Regions from separate parts of the Homo sapiens genome. Here region 2 is linked to region 1. The links come from fine-mapping of genetic effects on gene expression. A gene starts in region 1. The other region holds a variant in brackets. All regions are shown on one strand. Distances are between the middles of the regions. Region 1 holds the start of PRUNE1 (prune exopolyphosphatase 1). Region 2 overlaps PRPF3 (pre-mRNA processing factor 3).

What was found. PIP is the estimated chance that this variant, and not a neighbour inherited with it, causes the effect.
Region 2: its variant is the best candidate, but not a certain one, in a credible set for the expression of PRUNE1 in whole blood (TOPMed, PIP 0.59).

What each region holds. Positions count from the first base shown.
Region 1 is chr1:151,006,294-151,010,683 of GRCh38, forward strand. PRUNE1 (prune exopolyphosphatase 1) reads left to right here and starts at 2,156. Exons shown (of 8, transcript NM_021222.3): 1 at 2,156-2,378. The coding sequence starts at 2,340. MINDY1 (MINDY lysine 48 deubiquitinase 1) reads right to left here and starts at 609. Exons shown (of 10, transcript NM_001376665.1): 1 at 19-609. RefSeq lists enhancers at 1-104, 335-514, 2,007-2,549, 2,550-3,090, 2,746-2,795.
Region 2 is chr1:150,339,854-150,344,225 of GRCh38, forward strand. It overlaps PRPF3 (pre-mRNA processing factor 3), which reads left to right. Exons shown (of 16, transcript NM_004698.4): 9 at 545-624; 10 at 3,456-3,599; 11 at 4,309-4,372. Among named protein-coding and RNA genes, the nearest start is that of PRPF3, 21 kb to the left of the region's middle. The variant G/A (reference allele first, on the strand shown) is at 2,128.

The DNA.
Region 1 (4,390 bases):
TTAAAATAAAGTTTTTACCTTAAAGAAGGGGGTGCTGTTCCAAGATTGAGAAGGAGGGTTCAGCCGTGGCAATGAGATGGGGGAGATAGGTGCAATGAAGGGGGCTGCCAGTGCCAGCTGCCTTCCAGCTGTCAACGCCTGAGCTTATACAGGTTTACACAGCTTTATAAGCGACGGTCCAGGCTGGGTTGTGGCCACTTCCGGACTCACGCCCAGTACTGGGGGCACTGGAGGAGGGTGAAGGCAGGCAGGGACACAGCCAAGGTGCTCCAGGTCGCTCAGAGAGTCTTCAGGATTCCTGAGTCGCCGAGTCTATGGCATGCGCTCCGGGCCCTGACTACAAGCTGGTTTTCAAAGGAAGTTTGTGGTTTTTCTTTTCTTCTCTCTCTCTTTTTTGTTCTCATCAGGACGAAGAAAAATTAGGCAAGGACAAGCTCCCTGGAGGAGGAGGGGCCTGCCCAGCGCTGGTGGATTTCCATCAGGACTTTCTGACCCGGTCAGCAGCTTTGTGATCAGCAGAGAGGGAGCGAGAAACAGGAGAGAAAAACAACAGACCCTTTCTCTTCCCTCTGCCTGCCTCTAGAAGGGACGGAGCGCTTGTGCCTCTCTGGTGAGAATAGGGAAGAGCAAGTGCCCTTGCTAAGTAGGGAGGAGAAGGGCTGGACAGAAGCAGCTTGTTGGATCTGGGCTCTCTCTCTGGGTATGGCAGTCCTTTGCTCTGGATCCACAGAAGCAGGAGCAAAGAGCACGATATTTGCATGTATTACTCAATTAATGTTAAAAACAAACAAACAAACCCAGCTCTTTTCCCTCTGGAGCCCTCCAGAGAGCTCCTTTCCAAGTCCTTGCTGTATCATTTTTAAGTCTAGAAATGAAACTGGTTGGGTTGTGCACCTGGTAGAGTGCAGAGGGTGTGGTAGAAGCCCCAGGCTCTGGGCGCGATGGCTGACGCCTGTAATCCCAGCACTTTGGGAAGCCAAGGCGGGCGGATCACAAGGTCAAGAGATCAAGACCAACCTGGCCAACATAGTGAAACCCCATCTCTACTAAAAATACAAAAATTAGCAGGGCATGGTGGCACATGCCTGTAGTCCCAGCTACTCGGGAGGCTGAGGCAGGAGAATCGCTTGAACCCGGGAGGTGGAGGTTGCAGTGAGCCAAGATCCTGCCACTGCACTCCAGCCTGAAGACGGAGCAAGACTCCGTCTCAAAAAGAAGAAGAAGAAGAAAAGAACTGGCAGAGCAGGCAGGAGATCCAACACGCCTGTGCTCTGGATCTTGGTTCCACTGCAGGCCTCTCATCAGTCACCTCCTCTCGATTTACAGCTGGGGAAGCAGGAAAAGCTGGTGTGAGGCTGACGGTAGGAAATAAAGGGATAGATAAATAAATGAGGGAATTTTTGATGATGAGTGTCCATTTATTTGCAGTACCTGCACTACTCTGCGGCTGGAAAGTGGCAGTTAAGGGAGGTTGGAACCTAACTCCACATTCTGAAGGGTTCCCTAAACTCTATGTACAGGGCCGCCACAGGATGAAATTTCAAGCAACTCTAAAGGCTGAAAGAGCAATTGGAACAATTAGGGTGGCAGAGAGCAAAAAGCCAAGGTTACAACCGTCCAAGAAAGGAAGAAGATATTTGCCGAGGCTGTAGAAAAAAACAGGCTACAGAGTTGCAAAGGGAGAAGCAGCAGGAGTTGGCAGGAGACTGTAGGTGTTAACAAGAGGGGTCAAAGATTATTCTAATGTTCTCCTAACATGAACAACCACAAAATTGGTGGCGACTGAGTCAGTTTGGTAAAGGGCAGAATTTGTAGAAAGAAGATGATCTGTTTTGCCAAGTGTCATTTAAAATGTCACCAGATGCTCGGTGTGATATATGTAAAGATGTTATACTTGGCCTGATCTGAGAGGGAAAGTTCAGATGCCACAATAATGGGTTACTGTGACACATACACATTTGTTTACCGAACGACTGATCCCTCAGAAAACAATCCTTCCCTCGGTTGCTAGGGACATTGCGGAGTTGCGGGACTACGTTTCCCACGTCGCCCCACGCCACGCCCCCTTGGCCTCGCCGGAAAGACGTCCCAGGAGCCTCTGGGCGTAGAGCCCCGCCTCCGCCGCTGGGGGCGGGGCGACGCCGGACTCCGGAGCGCCCGCTTACGCAGTTCCTCCCGGGGTCGGAGGCCGATTCGCCGTGTGGCGGGTTCGAGTCCCGCCTCCTGACTCTGGCCTCTAGTCCCTGAGTCCCGGGCGGGCTGCATTCGTCGGGGAAACCTCTCCTCGACCAGGGGCACCTCTACTCGACCAGGGGCGACGGCGTACTTTGGGCTTCATCATGGAGGACTACCTGCAGGGTTGTCGAGCTGCTCTGCAGGTAACGAATCCCTGTCTGTGACTGTAAGGAATGGAGCACGGGGTCCAGGAAGGACGAAGACGTGGGATCTGGGGGAGCCTCGACGGTCCGTGTGGAGGGAACACTGAGTTGTGGGGAGGGGGGTTGGGGCCTGATCAGTTTTGGGGCATGAGGAGCGAGGAGCGAGAAGCCAGTTTAGGAGCGTGAGAATGCTGCTTGTTCAGTCTCCCGGTTTTTGGCTCCCCGCCTTTGGGGTCCGCCTGAGAGCGGGGAGAAGTCTTGGGTCTGAATCCTGCATTTGAGCCTCTGCTTGCTGTCATCTTGGTCAGTTCCATCAAAAAAACCAGGACTGTGCCGCCGCCAGCCTAGCCCCGCGAGGTGTGTTTATTCTTTTCTCCCCGCCCCTCTTTGAGTTCTCCGCTCCCAAGGCTTCGCTTGGCCCACTGGCCTCCAGGTGAACCTCGGGGGTGTGGAGGGAACCGGTGCTCACGGCCTTATTTCCTCCGAATGGCAGTTTCTGTCTGGCGGGCTGAACTCATTTCTAGGTTAGAAGTAGTCACAGTATTTTACTTTAAGTCAGTGTTTTTAAGCCAAACATACAAAATCCATCAGGCATATTTGTTGACCCACAACCAGCATTCCTTTGCCTCCAGGTTTCTCCTTTGGCCTTAACGCACACAAATGACATAAAAATTCTCCACTTGGAAGGGATAAGCACAAAGTGTGTTTGGAATCAAAACCATAAATATGACTACTCAATGCTTTGTGGCTTATTTTTGGTGCTCTCTGACTCAGTTGGACTCACCCAGCCATGCTGAGCCGTCATGAGGCATTAGGCTGTTATCCCCAGTTAGCAGCAAAAAGCTAACCAGAGACAGGCTCCAGGAGGTCACCCGGCCCCTCTACTTTGAGTTATACTGCCCTGAAGAAACCTAGATAGATGGCTTGCTGAGCTTTCCTTTTTAGATATCTTAAACTCTACAAATTCCCCTGAGGGACAGATTCTGGTCTTTAACAAATCCTGAAAGTCACTAATTCCTGCTGCAGACTCAGCTGCTGGAATAAATGAATTGTCTTCATATTGAATTGGGGAGAAGGTCCATTTTAACACCAATTACATAGACATTTTCCTTGTGAAAAACAAATTTGGGGAGTTATTTCAATGCATAAGGCCATTTGGAACCAATCCCTTTTTGTTACCTCTGAGTCCACCACAGGGCGCTTATTGGAGGACTAATGTAGAGTTTTTGGGGCACCGTTCTAAGTGCTAAACAGTTGGATTTTACCCCCCAGTAACCCAAATGACTGGTCTCTTCCACCATTTGGTAAAGTGCCCTTGGACCTGAAACCTCACCAAATAGTATTTCTTTGCATGCATCTACTCTCCAGCATATATCCTCCAGAGCCTCCCCCGACCCCCAGGTTAGTAGTATATTCTCTATTTTTATTTTGTATTTGTTTATTTATTTTCAGCCAGGGTCTCACTCTGTTGCCCTGGCTGGAGTGCAATGGTGTGATCACCTCCCCGGCTCAAGTGATCCTCCCACCTCAGCCTCCCGAAAAAGCTGCGACTATAGGCAGTGCCACCACGCAGGGCTAATTTTTTGTATTTTTATAGAGACAGGGTCTCGCCATGCTGCCCAATCTGGTTTCAAACTCCTGGACTCAAACAATCCCCCTGGCTTGGCTTCCCAAGGTGTTGGAATTACAGGTGTTAGCCACTGTACCCAGCCCGAATAGTATATTCTCTACAGCAATATGAAGCTGGAAAAATACTTGATTTTTCCAATACTGCTGGCATCTCGACCTTTCTCTCCCTGCATTCATCCCCCAAGGAGCAAGATCTAGATCTTCCTTTCAAACTTGTGAACTTGTGAAAGGTGAGATTGTGTCTTAGAGCTTGCATCATCACATAGCCTCTCCAGGGCCTGGAGAAATGAGAAAATTAGACTCTAGGAAGGTTAACAGGGGAACTGATGGCAAGACATACTGGTAGATGCCAACAATTTAAATTGCTTTAATTTTTTTTTTTT
Region 2 (4,372 bases), 670 kb before region 1:
TCCGGGACTACAGGCAAATACCACCACACCTGGCCAGTTTTTATATTTTTAGTAGACAAGAGTTTCACTATTTGGCCAAACTGGTCTCAAACTCCTGACCTCAGGTGATCCACCTGCCTTCATCTCCCAAAGTGCTGGGATTATAGGCATAAGCCACATCACCTGGCCCTGCTCCATCATTCTGATACATGGCTTTAGTAGATTTTGTCTTAGCCTTTCGTTGCCCCTTCTTTGTCAGCCACTGTTCCAGGGACTTATTGTCACTAATGAGAGAACATAGCGTCTGTCAGCTGTGGCATGGTAGAAAAAAGGTTGAGAATGATTGCTGTGGAGAGTGTGTTCAACCATAGAGGGACTCAGTTTTCTCATCATGAAAATTATGTGTAATTTAACTATATATTTTAGGTACCTAAATGCTATTTTAGGTATATCAAGCACAAGAACCCATTATAGAGAGTGGGTTTTTTCATTGTATTTCTGAGACTCCTCTCTTAGAATCATCTCTACCCGCATATCGTGTTTTCTTTTCTTCCTACAATTTTAGTACAGAGGAAAATCCCAAGAGAGAAGATTATTTTGGAATCACAAATCTTGTTGAACATCCAGCCCAGCTCAATCCTCCAGGTAATGTATAGATTCCTGAATCAAGTCTCTAGAGCAGCATTACCCATTGGAAATTTATACAGTGAGGAACATGTTCTGTATCTATGCTGTTCAATACAATAGCCACTACCCATGTGTAATTCTTTTTTTTAATTCAGTTTTTTTCCTGACAATAGTTTGTTGTTTGACCAGTGAACATACATTTTAAGTGCATATTCCTGTGCTTAGAATTTCATGAGACAGCCAAGCATGGTGGCTCATGCCTCTAATCCAAACACTTTCGGAGGCCAAGGCAGGAGGATTGCTTGAGGCCAAGAATTCAAGACCAGTCTGGGCAACACAGTGAGACCCATCTCAAGGAAAAAAAATTTGGCTGGGTATGGTGGCTTATGCCTGTAATCACTGCACTTTGGGAGGCTGAGGTGGGCAGATTGCTTGAGCTCAGGAGTTCGAGATCTAGGCAACATGGCAAAACCCCATCTCTACAAAAAATAAAAAATCAGCCGGGCATGGTGGTGTGCATCTGTAGTCCCAGCCTCTTGGGAGGCTGAGGTGTGGAGGATGGCTTGAGCCTGGGAGGTGGAAGTTGCAGTGAGCTGAGATGGTGCTGCTGCACTCCAGCCTGGATGATACTGCCAGACCTTGTCTCAAAAAAAAAAAAAAAAAAAAAAGAAGAAAGAAAGAAAGAAAAAAACCCAAAATTTCATGAAGCTTTACATTTACAGTTCCCTGGTTGTTCCTAGGAAAGAGCCCTCAGCTTGCTCCTTTTATAGAACCACATGTTGTTGTGGCATCCACAGCTAAATGCAAATGCAAGAGCCAAACTCTTGGGTTGGTGTGTTATTAGATGCGATATGCTCCACTACCCACTGTGAGGGATGCTAATTCCAAAGGGCTTTTTGTTAGTTTCCCAAAGTTGAAACTGGGAAACAAAGTTGCTTCTATTTTTTTTTTTTTTTTTTTTTTGAGGAGGAGTTTCGCTCTTGTGGTCCAGGCTGCAGTGCAACGGCATGATCTCAGCTCACCACAACCTCTGCCTCCTGGGTTCAAGCAATTCTCCTGCCTCAGCCTCCTGAGTAGCTGGGATTACAGGCATGTGCCACCACGCCCAGCTAATTTTGTATTTTTAGTAGAGACAGGGTTTCACCATGTTTGGTCAGGCTGGTCTTGAACTCCTGACCTCAGGTGATCTGCCAGCCTTGGCCTCCCAAAGTGCTGGGATTATAGGTGTGAGCCACCGCGCCCGGCCTTTTTTTTTTTTTTGAGTTGGAGTTTCGCTTTTGTCACCCAGGCTGGAGTGCAATGGCACTATCTCCGTTCACTGCAACTTTCACCCCCCTGGGTTGAAGCTATTCTCCGGCCTTAGCCTCCGGAGTAGCTTGGATTATAGGTGCCTGCCACCACACCTGGCTAGTTTTTGAACTTTTAGTAGAGACAGGGTTTTGCCATGTTGGTCATGCTTGTCTTGAACTCCTGACCTCAAGTGATCTGCCCACCTAGGCTTCCCAAAGTGCTGGGTTTACC[G/A]GCGTGAGCCACCGCACCTGGCCCTAATTTTGTTTTCTACATTTGCCAGGTATCATTGAATGAGGGGGTTTAACAGCTTAAAGGAAAACAACTAAGAACACTACTTAAGAAAGATAAGAGGCCAGGCGAGGTGGCTCATGCCTGTAATCCCAGCACTTTGGGAGGCCGAGGCGGGCAGATCACGAGGTCAAGAAATCAACACCATCCTGGCTAACAAGGTGAAACCCCGTCTCTACTAAAAATACAAAAATTAGCCAGACGTGGTGGCGGGTGCCTGTAGTCCCAGCTACTCAGGAGGCTGAGGCAGGAGAATGGTGTGAACCCAGGAGGCAGAGCTTGCAGTGAGCTGAGATTGCGCCACTGCACTCCAGCCTGGGCAGCAGAGCGAGACTCCGTCTCAACAAAAGGAAAGATAAGAATGTTTTTTAAAAACATAGCCATATTGCCGGGCACCAGGCCTGAACTGATTTTAATCTTACTGATCCCTTATTAACGAGTTTTCTTCATTTTCTATTTAAAGTTTATACACACACACACACACACACATGTTTTTTGAAATGGAGTCTCGCTGTGTTGCCAGGCTAGAGTGCAGTGGCAAGTGGCACAATCTCGGCTCACTGCAACCTCCACCTCCCGGATTCAAGTGATTCTCCTGCCTCAGCCTCCCGAGTAGCTGGGACTACAGGTGCGTGCCACCACGCCCAGCTAATTTTTGTATTTTTAGTGGAGTCAGGGTTTCACCATGTTGGCCAGGCTGGTCTCGATCTCTTGACCTCGTGATCTGCCCACCCGTGCCTCCCAAAGTGCTGGGATTACAGGTGTGATCCACCGCACCTGGCCTCAATATATTTTTTACATAAAATGTTTATAATAGAGTTGGGTCTCACTTGGTTGTCCAGGCTGGTCTCGAACTCTTGGGCTCACGCCATCCTCCCACCTTGGCCTATCAAAGTGCTAGAATTACAGGCATAAGCCACTGTGTCCAGCCTAAAGTTTCTTTTAATGATATTGATATTTACCTAGGTTTCTTTAATATTTTTATTGCTGTCCGGGCCTGGTGGCTCATGCCTGGCCAACATGGTGAAACCCCATCTCTACTAAAAATACAAACATTAGCCAGGCATGGTGGCGTGTGCCTGTAATCCTAGCTACTCGGGAGGCTGAGGCAGGAGAATTACTTGAACCCAGGAGGCAGAGGCTACAGTGAGCTGAGATCGTGCCATTGCACTCCAACCTGGGTGACAGAGTGAGAGAGAGAAAAAAAAAAAATATATATATATATATATGTATTCTTACTGCTTTGGTATACTAATATCTCTGCCTGACAGTTGACAATGACACACCAGTTACTCTGGGAGTATATCTTACCAAGAAGGAACAGAAAAAACTTCGGAGACAAACAAGGAGGGAAGCACAGAAGGAACTACAAGAAAAAGTCAGGCTGGGCCTGATGCCTCCTCCAGAACCCAAAGGTGCATTTCTCAGTGGCCTCTTCTGTTAAAAAGAGTGGCAAGTTTATGTCTTTAATCCTGGAGGAACTTTAACATCTCTGTGTTTGAGTGATTTCTGTTTCTAAGAATTATTCTTGGGGTCCTTTTTCTCCAAGTTTTCTACCATCTTTTCATATTAAGATAGGTCAACACATTCATTATAGAGGCCATTTATGGCTTATTTTTAAGCATACTGATCATACAACACTCTGGTTTTCCTGGAAGAATACAGGTCTTGAAATTCATGGAGATAGTAGTTGCAGTATTTGCGTAGACTTTTTATGTACATAATTCTTAATGTTTTAATTTTTACAATGAAAGTACAGGATAAAAAACTTGACCCTGTAGTTACATTCTCGTTCAGCAGTATTTTGACTGAGCACTATTATTTATAAGCTCTTTCACTAGATGCTGTGATCAGTGTGAAAAATATGAAAGGAATTAAGTTCCACGTCCTTCATAAATTTTCAGATAATGTAAATGCATACCAATCTTCAACTTAATTGTGTGAACTTCTGCAAATGCTGAAGTGATTGGATGGGATTTTCAAGATAGGAGTTATTGGAGGAAGTGAGTTTAGAGCAGAGATTTGAAATAGGTAAATAATATGAATTGGTATGGAAGAAATAACAAGTTACTCCAGCTGGAGAAGTGACTTCAAAGACTGATTGTTGTCCTCTCTTCACTGCAGTGAGAATTTCTAATTTGATGCGAGTATTAGGAACAGAAGCTGTTCAAGACCCCACGAAGGTAGA